2 separate regions of the Homo sapiens genome follow, and region 2 is linked to region 1. The links come from fine-mapping of genetic effects on gene expression. A gene starts in region 1. The other region holds a variant in brackets. All regions are shown on one strand. Distances are between the middles of the regions.

Evidence for each region.
Region 2: its variant is fine-mapped to the expression of HAL in whole blood (INTERVAL, PIP above 0.99).

What each region holds. Positions count from the first base shown.
Region 1 is chr12:95,993,297-96,001,296 of GRCh38, forward strand. HAL (histidine ammonia-lyase) reads right to left here and starts at 3,048. Exons shown (of 21, transcript NM_002108.4): 1 at 2,782-3,048; 2 at 2,368-2,695; 3 at 1,637-1,697; 4 at 1,502-1,529; 5 at 794-868; 6 at 630-702; 7 at 476-542; 8 at 155-192. The coding sequence starts at 2,614. LTA4H (leukotriene A4 hydrolase) reads right to left here. Exons shown (of 19, transcript NM_000895.3): 19 at 7,457-7,810. The coding sequence ends at 7,693. LOC102723340 (a long non-coding RNA gene) reads left to right here and starts at 3,186. Exons shown (of 4, transcript XR_945237.4): 1 at 3,186-3,334; 2 at 5,035-5,131; 3 at 6,795-6,964. RefSeq lists enhancers at 3,261-3,430, 4,655-4,949, 5,396-5,455.
Region 2 is chr12:95,968,989-95,977,516 of GRCh38, forward strand. It overlaps HAL (histidine ammonia-lyase), which reads right to left. Exons shown (of 21, transcript NM_002108.4): 19 at 7,610-7,718; 20 at 7,441-7,510; 21 at 3,674-5,384. The coding sequence ends at 5,244. Among named protein-coding and RNA genes, the nearest start is that of HAL, 23 kb to the right of the region's middle. RefSeq lists enhancers at 1,117-1,762, 1,763-2,408. The variant T/TAAAA (reference allele first, on the strand shown) is at 4,835.

The DNA of each region.
Region 1 (8,000 bases):
TCTTTCTGCATCCCTTCTCACCTCGGCACCTAGTTCTTGAAATGCTGTTTTGAGAAACTAGCTTTTTGTGACTATAACTGGATAACTCACACTGTGCTGTGCTTTATTCATCTAATCACACAAGATCCAGGAGGCACCCAACGTTTTGACTTACCTGAAGAATGTGAGCGTACTAAGTTGACCTGAAGCTCCCTGCAACAGAAAGGTAAAAACCCTCTTAGATACATTGCAGTGAGAAAATGTTCCCTCAGCTGGGAAAATGAAGGGAATCATGGTCAAATCCTTGGAGGGACAGAAGGAAGGCAATGGGAGAAACCAGCCAGCCTGGGTTTTCAATACCAACTCACATGCAAGGTAACCCAAGCCTCATCCTCTGATCTGTAAATTGGGGCAAATGTGAATTATTTCCCTTGTTGAAAAATATTTAAAAGATGAGGGTAGGTGGAACGTGAACATATGTGTGTTTTAAACTTACTGTAGCTTATTGATAGGAATTACAGTTCTGGCAAATTTCCCAAAACCTGTAGTAATACCGTAAACAACTAGAATAAAAAGAGACATTATGCAATTAAATGCAGGGATTTTTGTTTGTTTATAAAAATATTTATAACATAAAGATAAAAAGATACCTGTTTTCTCTTTTATGATGCTATCTATGACCTCCCTGGATTTCTGCACCCTCTTCTCAGCTGTTGGGGTGAGCTAGGAAAATGTTGATCAGAACTGAGCACGTTAAAGACTTCCACGGGCAACAAAAATGGCCAGAGGACATCTTTCCCCTCCCTCCCCATACCTTTATTTTGTAGCGTCCCTTTCCCAAGTTGACCAGATCCTCCGTGGTCAGACGGTCTCCATCTAACTCGATGTACTACACAAAAGAAGGGGATCTCAGTGAGTCTGAACAGCTTGATTATTCTAACCAGAGTAGGGACACCTCCAACAGAACCAAACTGACATTTCAGAGATCTGATCATTGCGTGAAACATGAATATGCTAAATAAAAATGCATCTTGCATAAGAGGAGGCTTATTGGTGCAAAAGCATAATGCCTTTCCAAGCCCCCTTTCCCCACTACAGAGCTGGATAAAGCCCTGTGGTTGGTTGGTTTGTTTGTTTTGAGGCAGAGTCTCCAGCCCAGGCTGGAGTGCAGTGGTACAAACATGGCTCACTGCAACCTCTGCCTCCTGGGTTCAAGCAATTCTCGTGCCTCAGGCTCCTGAGTAGCTGGTATTACAGGTGCACGCCACCATACCTGGCTAATTTTTGTACTTTTAGTAGAGATGGGGTTTCACCATGTTGGCCAGGCTGGTTTCAAACTGATGACCTCAAGTGAACTGCCCACCTCGGCCACCCAAAGTGCTGGGACTACAGACATGAGTCACTGCTCCCGGCCAGCCCTGTTCTAATTGACAGTGTTTTCTCAGAAGTTTTCCTGGCTTTCCTCCCTCTTAAATAAGGGGCCTTAATTTTCTGAAGAAAAAGAAAGTGGTTTGAAGCTTACCTTTTCAGGCTCCCGGTACTTGCTGTATCTGTATCCAGGTAAAGGAACATATAGGGTGGTGTGGAAAAACCCCCAGCCCCACCATCTGCAGGAGCCACCCCCAGAGCAGACCAAAGAGCCTGTGGGAAAGGATACAGATAAACTCCTTCTGGTTGAGATGGAATGAAGTCAGGAGACATGGCATCACCCTCTATAACTAAAACAATGCACGGGAGACTCGTTACAGATCACATTGTACAGCCATGTTCCCCCTGTTAAACCAAGGAACGGCCCATCATTGGCCCATGAATTCTATAGAAATGGCTGCTTTAAAACTGCTTCAGATGGTTTCATGTGGTCTTAGCATCTTTATGTAGGAGGAGAGCAAAAAGCAGAAAGGTAGGTGTCAGGGCAGAGACCAGGGGTTTAGATGAAAGTTCAAGACAGAATTCCACTTCCATCCCCATTCCCAGCTTTATTTTCTTCAAAATCTGAACTGATGCTATGCTGCCGGCCTCCAGTCTGGGGGTGGGGGTGGATTCTTTCGAAAGGCAAAATAACCTCAAAATGATTCAGTCACTGCAAAGGGATTCAGACCTGCAGCCTTGAGTACCAGTCTAGTCTTTGTTACTTACTAGCTGCTGGAGTCTGGGTAAGTTACCTCCTCTCTGATTTCTCCTCCATCAGAGGTGGAGGAGAATCCTACCCATCTCACAGGGTTGTGTGAGGACTTAAGATCCCCAGAGGCGTGGCATGTGCCTGCACAGGGCCAGCCTCGGCAAGCCTGACCTCTGCTCATCATTTTCCCTGAGGTGGGGGTTCAATGCTGCAAAGACTAAGCCAGGCCAAACCGCACCCGTTCGCGGCCCTCTCCTGCAGCCACTCACCCACTTCCACGAACTCGTTGTTCTCTAGGGCCACCTCGAGCCGGTCCTCGTTGTCCAGCAGGCCCAGGCCCTTGCACCGGCGCACAAGGAAGTGCGCGTCATCCACGGAGGTGAAGCCACCATTGTCGGGCTTATTCTTGATATAGCGCCTCACGGCCTCCCGGCCCAGCCAGCCCACAGTGAGCTGCGCGTCCTGGCAGGGCACTGCCAGCCATTCCCCACGTACGTGCACCGTGTATCTGGGCATGGCTCCGCTGCAGCCTGAGGTCCTCAGCTGGTCACAGGAGGGGAGAGCTTTATGCAGGAGTGGCTACCGGGGTGTGGTCAGCTGGAAGGATGAGAATAGACTTTCAAACCACTCCCCCTCCTTCACCTTTACTCATTCATGCATTGGACAAATATTTATTGAGGTACCTGCTGTCCCTTTGGTTTTTGTAGCCGAGCAGGGGCAGGAGCAGGGGATGCAGACGGGTGAGCCTCCTGTCCACTTTCCATCCAGACCTGCTGCCAGAAAGGCCTGGGGTCTCCCACCCTGGGAGGTGCTGTTCTTGTCCCTGATGGCACCTACCTGCTGCTGGCCCCCTTTCTTCAGGGTCCCCAATTTCTCTCTCTTCCCTCGTTTCTGTCTGTGTTCTCTGCCATTAAGGGCAGCTTATAAACACCATGTTCCTGTCTTTATCTGAGATTACTCAACTGTAAAACGTGTTCTGTGGGCCAACTGTGACACTGGGAGTGTGGCAATCGTCACTCATTTGTTTATTCCACAAACATGTATTGAGCAACTACTTCCTGTCACCAGTAAGGTTTTCTGAAGCTTTCTTTCCACCAGGGAAGACTGCAAAGGCCAGAGATCATTTTCACAACTAAAGGTCGTCATCTGGGCAAATGAACCACTCTGACTTGGAGATTAGGGGCTCAGACAGCCGTGGATGAGAGTCCAGCTCTACTACTTATTAGCCTTGATTAGGTGAGTATTACCCTGTATTTCCTTATCAGAAGGCCTAGGGGCTAACTGCCTCCTTCCAGTATGTGCAGGATTTACCTGTGATCAAATCCTGGCTCTGCCATTTGCTAAGTGTATGACTTGTGGGCAAGTGATTTGACTTCTCTGGGCCTCAGTTGCCTCATCTGTAAAATGAAGATAATGGTAATGATGATAGTATATATGTCAAAGGGCTATTGGGAGGATGAAGTCAGTTCATATATGTAAAGCCCTCAACACAACACCTGGCATAGTGGAAATATTATAGAAGTGTCTGTGATTACTAGTATCTGGACACCAATACTCCATGTAACTATAATGCTTTATAAATGTTCTGTATGAATCATAAAGCTATAAAGTTCCATAAATGCTCTTTCATCTTGGCACATGGATATCCCTCACCCAATTAAGCTTCTTCACCACAGATAACTGCTCCCTGCACCCGCCTTATTACCATTGGTATTAAGGAACTCTGGATAGCATGATTACGGCATCAAAGATATGCAGATGCTATTTTGACTAAGCAGCACTTTCATCGTAAGCCAATTTTTAGAGATTTGATTATTGCACTAGAAAAATCCTGAAAAGTCTGTTTCCACTAAATCAGACTTCTGTTGGGAAGAGAGACATGGTTGCTCAAGAAAAACACCTATACTCATACCCAGAGTCCCTCTCATCTGCTGACAGCTTCCCAGGAAGCGTACAAATAGCTACCCTTCCTTGAGCCTTATTGAAACTTGCTCTTCAGATACCCACACCATGACTGCACCCTGGAATTTGTCATGACCTGAATTTGACACACTTAAGAAATCACCCTGGAATCTGTCACGACCTGAATTTGACACACTTAAGAAATCTGAAATTCCAATATTCCACCTTCTGACCACAACCTTCCAGCTGCCCTTTTACTCTAGTCACTGCCAGCCTTGGACCTGACCTCCAGTCAGTCTCTTCATCCCTCCACTTCCCACCAGCATCCTCACTTACTATCCTAGGAAGCTGGTCCCTAGTCGCTCACTGGACCACTCTTTCTTAAGCACTCTGAGATTCCTTTGCATCCCTAAACTTATGTCTACACTTGGAATAACACCCATCCCCTTAGTCATCACAAAAAACAGCCATCTCTTGGAAGGATTGCTTAAGCCTAGGCAGTCAATGCTGCAATGAGTTATGATTATACCACTGTACTCCAGCCTGGGTGAGAGCAAGACCCTGTTTAAAATTAAAAGAAACTGTCATATCTGTTCACCCAGGCAGAAGACACTGATAGAGAAAGTCCTGTGATCACATAGTTTGATGGTATTGCCCTTTTATTCCATCCAGCCCACAGTGACTTTCCAAAACTTTGACCCCTCTGCCAGGACCTTCTCGACATCCACCTCTAATTCTCAGAAGGAGACCTTACTTCCTACATCTGTGAGAAAACTGAGGACTGCACATGTGAACCACCTTAACCTTCTGCCCCACCCCCCCCCATTCATTCCTTGACTCATTTAACAAATATTTTTTCAACACCTGTTATGTAACAAGCTCTATGCGAGGTGCTGGGGATGAAATAAATAACAAACACGCTCTACATTCATGAGGCTTACTGTCTGGTGATGGATAAAGCTGTATAAAGATGACTAATAAGAGGTCTAACTATCTTCATGCTGCAAAACAACCCAAACTACTGCATGCTCCAGTTGACTGTCACTGCCGAGACCAGCTTCTGAGTAATTTCAGCCCAGGCATCAGACTAGTGAGGGAAGGAGCTTCCAGGTGATACCACCTCCCAGCCATGTAAGTCACCCCCAGCAGTTTGAGGATTCTAAACTCAGGCCCTACGCATTGTGGAGCAGAGTCTTCCTTGTTATTCTTTCTCCAGAAACGCACTTTCCAACTTCCTTTGCCTGTCTAGATCTTTCTTACTCCTTAAGCCTGTTTAGGCCTTTTCTTCTCCAGGAAGCATTCCCTAAATTCTTCAGTTGGGTTAAGTGGCCCTTCTCTGGGATGCCTTAGCATAGCTCTTCTTTAGTATTATCTAGGAAATTACTTGTCTGTGTTCATCCATAATTATGTATATATCCGATCTGGCACAAAGACATTTAGCATATGCTTACTAGCTGAACTGAAGAAATGTGAACTGCACCGAGCTGGCCCCTAGGTAAACCAGCAAGCAGGATTAAGTTTGTCTTTAGCGCCCTCTACCTTCTTCACAGCACCCTTCCATGCCACCCTTCAAGCATCCCTTGTCACAATTCACTTTCAGTATCACTAAGTGATAACTAAAAACGACATTAACTTACAGCTTGTCTTGTAAGCTCATAGGGCAGAAGCCTTAAAGAGCAGTATTTGGGTAAATGGATTTGCTAAAGTCTAATCTTAGAACATGATCTTATGCCAGTGATTTGAGCTGAACTCCCTTCTCTGTATTCTTGGCAAGGAAGGCAAGGGAGAGCAGAGCCTGGAGAAAGAATCACACTGCAGCATAGATAAGTGACCAAGAGGACAGAACGAGGCGGGTGGATTGCTTGAGCCCAGGAGTTCGAGACCAGCCTGGGCAACATGGCCAAACTCTTTCTCTACAAAACAAAAATTAGCCAGACATGGTGGTGCATGCCTGTAGTCTCAGCTACTCCAGAGGCTGAGGTGGGAGGATGGCTTGAACCCAGAGGCTGATGCTGCAGTGAGCTATGGTCATGCCACTGCACTCCAGCCTGGGCGACAGAGTGAGACCCTGTCTCAAAACAAAACAAAACAAAAACTGCTAGGGAGAGTGAGAGCCAGGGAAAAGTCAGGATTCCGGGAATAGGCAGGAATATGTCTCTTCCATACCTGTCCCACCTTGGGTGTTCACTCCTATTGTAACTTTAGTCACTGCATTAGCACTTTGAGGGGTTATTTGGTCAGGACACCGCTCCCCACCCCCACCCCATGCCAACAATTATACTCTAAGACACCATTCCTCTTACACAATTTATTTGACCAGAGGTGGACCCAACCTGGGTTAGAGTCTCACCTCTGGGAATTTGGAATTGTGATAGCCTCCCCATGTGGTCAGAGCTATTTGTAACAGTAAAGCTGGAGAGTGGCCGGCCTGTACAACGTGGACTAGAGAGGCAGAGGTGAGGGACAGGAGCACTGACGGTGCTGCAGTCCTGGGCATCAGACCCCTTCTGTCCGTCCCAGGTTCTGATAATCTCCCCATACCTAGCATCCTTAAAATAATCTTCCTTTTCCCTTTTTGACTTCTGGTCACTTGGATTGCTGTTACTTGCAATCAAAGAATTCTAACACAGCTATGGTTCTAATTAATTCTAACTAATAGAGCTAATACACTAATAATTCTACCTAGTACAGCTATGTGTGCTGAGATGCCCTGGGGCACTACGTTGCATTGGCAGGGGTGCTTTGTTATGTTTGTCTTTTATTTGGTTCAAGTTATTTTGTTGTCTTTGAACAGACTGTGAGAGGGATGGGAAAGACTGGTGCTTGGGGTGGCCATCTGACCCCTGATGGACAGGAGACCAGGACAAGCCCACTGGATGAGCCGGAGGGGTCCAGGAGGAGGGAGTTGAGAGCTCCTGCTAGGGTTGACACATTCTGGTAAGGAGTTCATCTGCTGTCCACCAGGTAGGTGGTGTGCAAATACAACTAAGCATTCATGTTTAAGGTTTTTTTTTAATTTTTTATTTTTCGAGGCAGAGTCTCCATTGCCCAGGCTGGAGTGCAATGGCGCCATCTCGGCTCACTACAACCCCTGCCTCCCAGATTAAAGTGCTTATCCTCCCTCAGCCTCCTGAGTAGCTGGAATTACAGTCGTGCCTCCACGCCCAGCTAATTTTTGTATTTTTAGTAGAGACGGGGTTTCACCATGTTGGCCAGGCTGGTCTCAAACTCCTGACCTCAGGTGATTCACCCGCCTTGGCCTCCCAAAGTGCTGGGATTACAGGCATGAACCACTGCGCCCGGACTTATGTTTAAGGTTATTTAAAAAGCAAAGCAAAATCCTAACCATGTTGAATTTTTGAATCTGCAGCAGATTCAAATTAATGAATTTAAATCATATATCAGGTAAAATACTACCTTGACATATTTTGTGATCATACTGAGAGAAAATTAATATAAAGCTAATTCAAAATTTTTTAATTTGTAAATCAAAAGATTAAACCTTGTTAAAATTTACAAAGAATATGCCACTATAAGAAGAAGTAGCTCAACTTTATTTCAGTAAAATCACCAACAAAACAATAAAAAGCCAAAACTAAAAAGACAGTTTTAATTGTGAGCTGAAGTTTTATATTTCTTTACGAATTCCATTTAAAAAAGAGAAATCTCTAAAATCATCAATACGCAGGTCTTTAATCCACTTTTAAGTCTTTCCCCACCAGCATTGCAGTCACGGGATGCATGCTTGCTTTGTGCTCTTGGTAGGTTCGGACAGCTTGATCATGGGATTTGTCAAAGGCAGCAAGATCCCTGCCAAAAAAGAAAAAATTGAAAAGAAAGAAAGGCGAGAAGGAGACAGAGGAGGAGAAAGGGAGGGAGAGAAGAAAGAAAGGAGGGAAGGGGTTCAGAGGAAAGGAAAAAGGAAGGAGAAAGAGAATAAGAACACAAGTCAATACCCAAGATTAAATTAAAGGATGTCAGCAGGGGTGACAGCCAGCAT
Region 2 (8,528 bases), 24 kb before region 1:
GCTTGCTCTCGGCATCTCCTCTGCCTGGGCTCCCACTTTGGTGGCATTTGAGGAGCCCTTCAGCCCCCCTACTGCACTGTGGGAGCCCTTTTCTGGGCTGGCCAAGGCTGGAGCCCACTCCTTCAGCTTGCAGTGAGGTGTGGAGGGAGAGGCGTGAGCGGGAACAGGGGCTGCGTGCGGCGCTTGCGGGCCACCTGGAGTTCCGGGTGGGCGTGGGCTTAGCAGGCCCCGCACTCGGAGCAGCCGGCCAGCCCTGCTGGCCCCGGGCAGTGAGGGACTTAGCACGCGGGCCAGTGGCTGCGGAGGGTGTACTGAGTCCCCCAGCAGTGCTGGCCCACCAGCGCTGTGCTCGATTTCTCGCCGGGCCTTAGCTGCCTTCCCACGGGGCAGGGCTCGGGACCTGCAGCCCGCCATGCCTGAGCCTCCCACCCACTCCATGGGCTCCTGTGCGGCCCGAGCCTCCCTGACGAGCATCACCCCTGCTCCACGGCGCCCAGTCCCATCGACCACCCAAGGGCTGAGGAATGCGAGCCCATGGCGCAGGACTGGCAGGCAGCTCCACCTGCAGCCCCGGTGCGGGATCCACTAGGTGAAGCCAGCTGGGCTCCTGAGTCTGGTGGGGACTTGGAGAGTCTTTATATCTAGCTCAGGGATTGTAAATACACCAATCAGCACCCTGTGTTTAGCTCAAGGTTTGTGAGTGCACCAATCAACACTCTGTATCTAGCTGCTCTGGTGAGGACGTGGAGAGTCTTTTTTTTTTTTTTTTTCTGAGACGGAGTTTCGCTCTGTCGCCCAGGCTGGAGTGCAGTGGCGCAATCTCGACTCACTGCAAGCTCCGCCTCCCGGGTTCACGCCATTCTCCTGCCTCAGCCTCCCGTGTAGCTGGGACTACAGGCGCGCGCCACCATGCCCGGCTAATTTTTGTATTTTTAGTAGAGACGGGGTTTCACCGTGTTAGCCAGGGTGGTCTCGATCTCCTGACCTCGTGATCCGCCCGTCTCGGCCTCCCAAAGGGAGAGTCTTTATGTCTAGCTCAGGGATTGTAAATACACCAATCGGCACTCTGTATCTAGCTCAAGGTTTGTAAATACACCAATCAGCACCCTGTGTTTAGCTCAAGGTTTGTGAATGCACCAATCGACACTCTGTATCTAGCTGCTCTGGTGGGGCCTTGGAGAACCTGGGTGTGGAAACTGTATCTAACTAATCTGATGGGGATGTGGAGAACCTTTGTATCTAGCTCAGGGATTGTAAACGCACCAATCAGCGCCCTGACAAAACAGGCCACTAGCCTCTACCAATCAGCAGGATGTGGGTGGGGCCAGATAAGAGAATAAAAGCAGGCTGCCCGAGCCAGCATTGGCAACCCGCTGGGGTCCCCTTCCACACTGTGGAAGCTTTGTTCTTTCGCTCTTTGCAATAAATCTTGTTACTGCTCACTCGTTGGGTCCACGCTGCTTTTATGAGCTGTAACACTCACCACGAAGATCTGCAGCTTCACTCCTGAGCTCAGCAAGACCACGAGCCCACCGGGAGGAACGAACAACTTCAGACGCACCATCTTAAGAGCTGTAACACTCAGCCCGAGGGTCCGCGGCTTCATTCTTGAAGTCAGTGAGACCAAGAACCCACCAATTCCGGACACAATCACAATGGGGTCTCTGGAGCTCTGAACCTCATGCGATTATTTAAGAAGTCTTGAGACAGTGTAGGGGGCACACAGTTGCTGTGTGTGATGGCTCCCCTGTGACCAGTCACCTAGGCACTGAACATTTGGGGCGCAGGAGATACACATAAAAGCCAAAACGGAATGTTAGGTCGAGTCTTCCCTGGAACTCAAGCAACACAAGATTAGATTCTTCTATTGAAGAAACAAGAAGGAGAAGCACATCTGATTTTTCATCTAGGAGGCACTCACTTTAAACAAATAGCATTCATGCCTTTTTTGAAAGAAGACAGAAAAAGACATCTACCCAAACTGCCCTAGTCCTCCCAGGCCAGCGTGCTGCAAGCCCGTGCAACTGACGGAGTTTGCTAGGAATGCAGAACCTCTGGCTGGACCCAGACCTGCTGAGTCCGAATCTGCATGCTAATAAGCCCCGGGTGATTCACATGCACATTAAGGTCTGAGCAGCTCTGAGTTCTAAGCCCTAATCACACCAATCTTCACACTGTTCCTTAGGGGACAGTGAGCTGCTCAGGGCCATGCAATACGGTTCCCTCTGCCCAGAATGCTTTCCTTCTCTTCCTTACATGGGAAACTGGAGCTGGACGCCCTTCCCCACATTCCCACATCTCTATGATAGCCTTTGTAGCATTGTAATTTAACTGTCTTTTGTATGTTAGACTAATGAAGTCTACCCTCTGGGCTGAAACTAATGTTCTCCAACTATTTTTTACATTTACATTTACATTTACAATGTTTACATTTAATAAATTAATACTCTCAACAAAAGTAAGCAAAAAGGCAAAATGAGTTGGGAGCAGTGGCTCACGCCTGTTATCCCAGCACTTTGGGAGGCCAAGATATGTGGATCCCTGGAGGTCAGGAGTTCAAGACCAGCCTGACCAACATGGTGAAACCCCATCTCTACTAAAAATACAAAAATTAGCCGGGTGTGATGGCGCATACCCGTAATTCCAGCTACTCGGTAGGCTGAGGCAGGAGAATTGCTTGAACGCAAGAGGCAGAGGTTTGCAGTGAGCTAAGGTAGCATTATTGCACTACAGCCTGGGTGACAGAGCCGAGACTCCATCTCAAAAAAAAAAAAAAAAAAAAGCAAAATGAACCATAAAGAGAACCATAAAGTTTAATAAAAAGCAATCCAGTGACCAGACCCAAAAATCAGACACAGGTTTAAAGCAGTATGAAATGTATCTGCTTTTGAATTTTGCCGGTTGTAATGACTTTTTTTTCTTTTTCTTTTCTTTTTTTTCTTTCTTTCTTTTTTTTTGAGATGGAGTCTCACTCTGTCACCCAGGCTGGAGTGCAGTGGCACGATCTTGGCTCGCTGCAACCTCTGCCACCCAGGATCAAGCAATTCTCCTGCTTCAGCCTCCCGAGTAGCTGGGATTACAGGCACCTGCCACGGTGCCTGGCTAATTTTTGTAATTTTAGTAGAGACAGGGTTTCACCATCTTGGCCAGGGTGGTTTTGAAATCCTGACCTCGTGATCCACTCACCTTGGCCTCCCAAAGTGCTGGGATTACAGGCATGAGCCACTGCACCCAGCCTGTGATGGGATTTTATGCATGTGGTAGATTGTCAGATACAGGCCCATGGATCACGTCAAATCACATGCCCATGCCCTTGAGTGTTACCCTCCCAAATTGACTCTGGGCCTGGAACGTGACTCGCTTTAGCCAACAGGACATTAGCGAACGTGGCACAACAGGGACTTGAAAAGCCCTTGTTCTTTAGGGTTTGCCTCCTCCAGCTGCCCTGAGACAACTTGTGACAAAGACCAGGTGAGCCTGCGGGGCTGGGGAGGAAATCCTGATACCTCCAACTCTTTTGTTGCTAGCCAATGGGAAAAAGAGTGTACTGAGTCAAGCATATTGTTCTTAAAACGGTTGACATCTGTCAACTGAATCCTTCAGAAGCTTGATTAACTGCTGTTAGAGGCGCTTAACTTTGCTATAAATACCTAAGAATAAAGCGACACCATAAGGCAATTGAGACTTAGTTTATTCCATGTTTCCCTTGAAGTTCCCTTGAAGGCGTGTGCTGTCAGTTACTAATAGAGCTGTGTAGAAAACTCAGTGACAAAGTGTCATTTTGACCTGGAGGGCTGCAGGGGCTGAAAGAATCCAGCATTCCCCAAACTGGAGCGAAGAGCACCATGAGACCACTGGGGGTTACTGGCTCAATGGCAGCCCACGGATGACAATGCACAAACCTCATTTGTGTGTGTTCACATTTTGACAAGGAATAGCACCAAGAACAACCTTTAGGTAAACAGTCTCCTCAGCACATTTTTTGCTCCCTGAATTGCTGTGTGCAGCAGTTTTCACTTCAGTTTCCACCTGACAGGTTGTAAATCTAAAGGGTGAAAACTCTATTGTGAAATCCACTGTTCGGCCCATTTTAGATGGCAATTAGGTAGGCAAGGTGGCAAGTGTGTCTGTCCTCCTCTCCACCAGCTGTGGTTTTTAGAGCCACGGTTTCAGACCACTTGAAGGGCCTTGCACATATATGCACACACTGGTGCAAAGTCACAGAGCTTAGACTTGGGAAGCCAAGAGGTCATGTGACCCATCCTTCATCTGGACAGATACACTTAAGCCATCCCTGAAGGTCCTTTATCTTCTCGGGGAAAAAAATAGATGCAGTAATACACTCTAGGGCTCCATCTGACCTTTATCAATAGGACTTATTTTAATGATTACCATTACAGAAAGGAGGTTGGTTAATCCCCAAAGATTCCTTATCTGTGAAATGAGGAAGGTTACAATAAGAATGTGAATAGAGTACTAACACCAAGGAAGTGAAAATACTAACCTCAAACTCCCATGTAAGCATTTGGGGGATACGTGTAGTGATAAGTACAAAATACACAGTTTAATAAGAGCCACCCAAATAGCAATCTTTATATTCATTCCTTATCTCCTTTGCACATGAAACTCCTTGTTGGTTTTAATCACCTCTACAATTAATAGCTGAAGACCCTATTGACTACTCTTTACTATGATCCAATTAATAGAAGAAAAAAGCAGCTTAAGGACAAATTATGACTTAAAATGGTTATTTATGAAGGCATATTAAGGCATATCATGCAAAGTAAAATTAGCCAAAGAAAGTCAACTGGTGGAGAGCTTGTTGAAGCAAATT[T/TAAAA]AAAAAAAAAAAAAAAGGTTAACAAAAGTCTAATGTTTTTAGAAAAAATTGCTATCAATCTGTTTCCAAATTTGAATTCATCTAATGCTAAGAGTAAAAAACAGGCACATACAATTGTGGTTATTCTTCTCACCCTTAAGAGTGAGTGGCCTGTTGAAACTGTTAAGAAAGAAAGAAAAGTTTTATAATCTGAAAATACCTGGTGGGTCTTGAACCACGACAACAGGAACACAGTGCTGAATTTAGCAACTATAATACTGCCATCAGCCTAACCAACGTAGGCTTTAGAAGAACTGAATGATACAATGGATTGATCTACCTAGGAAAGTTCTCAGGTCTCTCCTTCAGCCTAGTATTGCTTTGTGCTAAACTGACTGCCCTCTCATCTGCTACTTCATGACAAAGCCCATTAAAGGTCCTCAGACTCCGGGATTTTGGTGGATTTCTTGTGCAGAAATTGCAGTGAAAAGGCTGTTGGAGAAAGAGGTCTTGATTCTGGAATATGCTCCATTCTGTATTTTTCAATGTATGGAGCAGCTACTTCCCAAACCTGAAAAGCAAGGACAAAACAAAGTTGAAATATTGACGACATTGTTTCCACATGCTATTAAACATCAACTTCATCCGAAGTCAAAACATACTCTATACATGACCAGACACAGCTGCTGTTTGCTTGCTTTTATTTTAAGCCATTTGACACATGACCTGTGTCAATTAGTCTTTGGTTGCATTAAAGACTGTAAATATACAAAGTCCAAAACTTTCTAAAGTCATCATAAAGATTTTAAGCTGCATACTTTTCCTAAGCAAAACAAGCAAGCAAATAACAAAACCCAGAGAATTCAGTGTGGATAGAGTGAAGGATAGTTGCTCCAGGGTCTTAACAGTACCTATGTGGTTTTTTTCTTGTTTTTTTGTTTTTTTTCTTTTTTTGTGAGACAGAGTCTCACTCTGTCGCCCAGGCTGGAGTGCAGTAGCATGATCTCAGCTCACTGCAACCTCCACCTTCCAGGTTCAAGCAATTCTTGTGCCTCAGCCTCCTGAGTAGCTGGGATTACAGGTGCATGCCACCAGGCCCAGCTAATTTTTGTATTTTTAGCAGAGATGGGGTTTCACCATGTTGGCCAGGCTGGTCTCGAATTTCTGGCCTCAAGTGATCCACCCACCACAGCTTCCCAAAGTGCTGGGATTACAGGCGTGAGCCACCACACATGGCCTGGACCTGTGTGTTTTCTAAAGCAAGCCTTAAATGGTAAAAGGCAGTGAATTGTATTTCCCTATTGCCTTATTTCCATGCCACAGGTGCTCTGTTCCTTTGACCCTGCTACTCAAAGCGTGGCCTGTGCCCCTGCAGTATCAGCATCACCTGGGACAAGTCAGAATCTTGGCCTTCACCCAGACCTACTGAATCCACACCTGCATTTTAACAAGATGCCCAGCAGATTCATAGCCACTTTAATGTTGGAGAGGCACTGCCTCAGATCCTTGGTTAGCTTTTGCCTCCCACCCACCAACCTCTTTTTTCTTTTTTTTTTTTTTTCTTAAGCATAACATCATCTCAAAGTAAGGCCCTGGACGGGCATGGTGGCATGTGCCTGTAGTCCCAGCTACTCAAGAAGCCAAAGTGGGAGGATCACTTGAGCCCAGGAGTTTGAGTCCAGCCTTGGCAACATAGCAAGACCCGCATCTCTAAAAAAATTTTTTTTTAAATTGAATGAAATTAAGGCCCTGTTTTTGGTTTATATCTGCTTTTTAACTGATTGCCACTGACAGCCAAGGAGCCTTTCCTATTATTTTTTATGACCTTAGCAAATGAATACTCTTAAAGGCTAACCTCTCGTATACCTCCCTCCTAGCACCAAAGTTGGCAGCAGGCAAGCAGCTTCCCCATCCAGAGTGCAGGGCATGCTTAGAAATAATGGGTGTGAAAATCACAGGGAAAAATCACTGCCCCAGAGCAGAGCAACTGTTTTAAGGAAATCAAGCGATTCTAGGGAACATAACACCCACAAGTTATTCAAAAGGTTTAAAGCACTTCAAAAACGATATTTAAAAGATAAGCCAGCATGCTGGGCATCTGTACCTGGCAGCTGAGTATACGGTCAATGTAACCAGTGGAAATATGCAAGAAAGAAAAACCCGCATCTCACCAGAGCACTAGACAGACCGAAAGTCTTCTGAAGTAAACACCCGGGCCTTGGTTTTCTCTCCAGGTCTACGCAGCCATTGCACCCAGTGGTGGTAGTTGTGATAGCATCACCCAGAAGGGAACGCACTTTTGAATCAAAGAGGACATCTTGCAGGGGTGGGGAGGCATCAATGAACCTGACATCTTATTTTTTTCCCCATGAATATTGTCCCAAAACTCCATTTAAAATCCATTTCTGTTTCTAATCCTTAGATATTCAACCGTTGGCTGCACCCTGGTGCACTTAGTGTTTATTATATGGCTTCTTAGTGGTGCTGCAAGTTGTTGCTCAAATACCTTTTTGCTCATTCCCAAGGAATGGCCAGAAAACAATAGAATAAGGCAATGTTTCTCCATCCCCGACTTTGCTTTCCTGTAACAATTAAAAATTAAGAAACAAGCCAAGGAGCCAGCTTGCCTTCTGCTCCAGGAGCAGCCTGTGGGCTGCCTCGATGTCCGGGGCCATGAAGCGATCTTTTATCCAGGGCCTACAGGGAGAGCACATCCGCCCATCAGCCAAACATGAAACCCTGCCAGGGTTCACAGTGCTGAACTGATGTAATTTTCAGAGACCTGTTTGATCTTACCTTACAACAGAGCGCACCAGGTCATAGACCTTCTCCAGCGGAGTGGTTGTTTTCAGGGGACGTAGAAACTCTATGCCCTGGCAGGCTGCAAGGAGCTCGATGGCCAGCACTGAAACAAGAAATTCCAAGAGGGTAGCTTATGAAAGTCTGACTTCATGCTTAAGGAATGTGGATTTCCCAAAGTTGACACCCATCACCACCCAACTAACAGATGGTTTGTTCTCTGTCTATTGGTAGAATGAAGTTGCTTTGGTATTTAGTTGCCATTTTAACCTGTTTTCTAACCCCTTGACTATATCTTTAATGCTGAGAAGGGGAGAATTGAGACATTTACCTGAATAATTACCAGACCTGCACACCTACCCAGGAAGCTGCCCATTCATCTGCACTAGCAAAATCTGCCATGTCCCCCATTCACATCCTCTAACAAAGGTTTGTTGGCCAAGTTTGGGTCATGTGGGTAGGGAAGGAAGTCAGAAAGAAGAGCTGATCCTCATCTTGAGCCCCAGTTCTATTAAATAATTGTATGCATTTCATCAAGATGCTTTACATCTCGTGGTTTCCAATTCCATATGAATTGCGGGGTGGGGATACTGGACTAGAAGATGAGAAATTGCTTCCAGGTCCACCGTGAATTCCACAACTTCATCCTCTCCCACTGTGACCTGTCTGCACTCACTAGAGTTCATAGTGTACTTCATAAATTGAATGTGCTGTTGAATCAAGGTGGGGTGTGAGAGTTCATGGTACTCTTCTCTCCACTTTGAATATGTTTTAAAAGTCTCATTAAAAAAAAAACCACTTTGGGGGTGAGGTGGGAGGATCGCTTGAGGCCAAGAGTTTGAGACCAGCCAAGGCAACACAGCAAGACCCCATCTTTACAAAAAATTTAAAAATTACCCAGGTGTGGTGGTGCTTG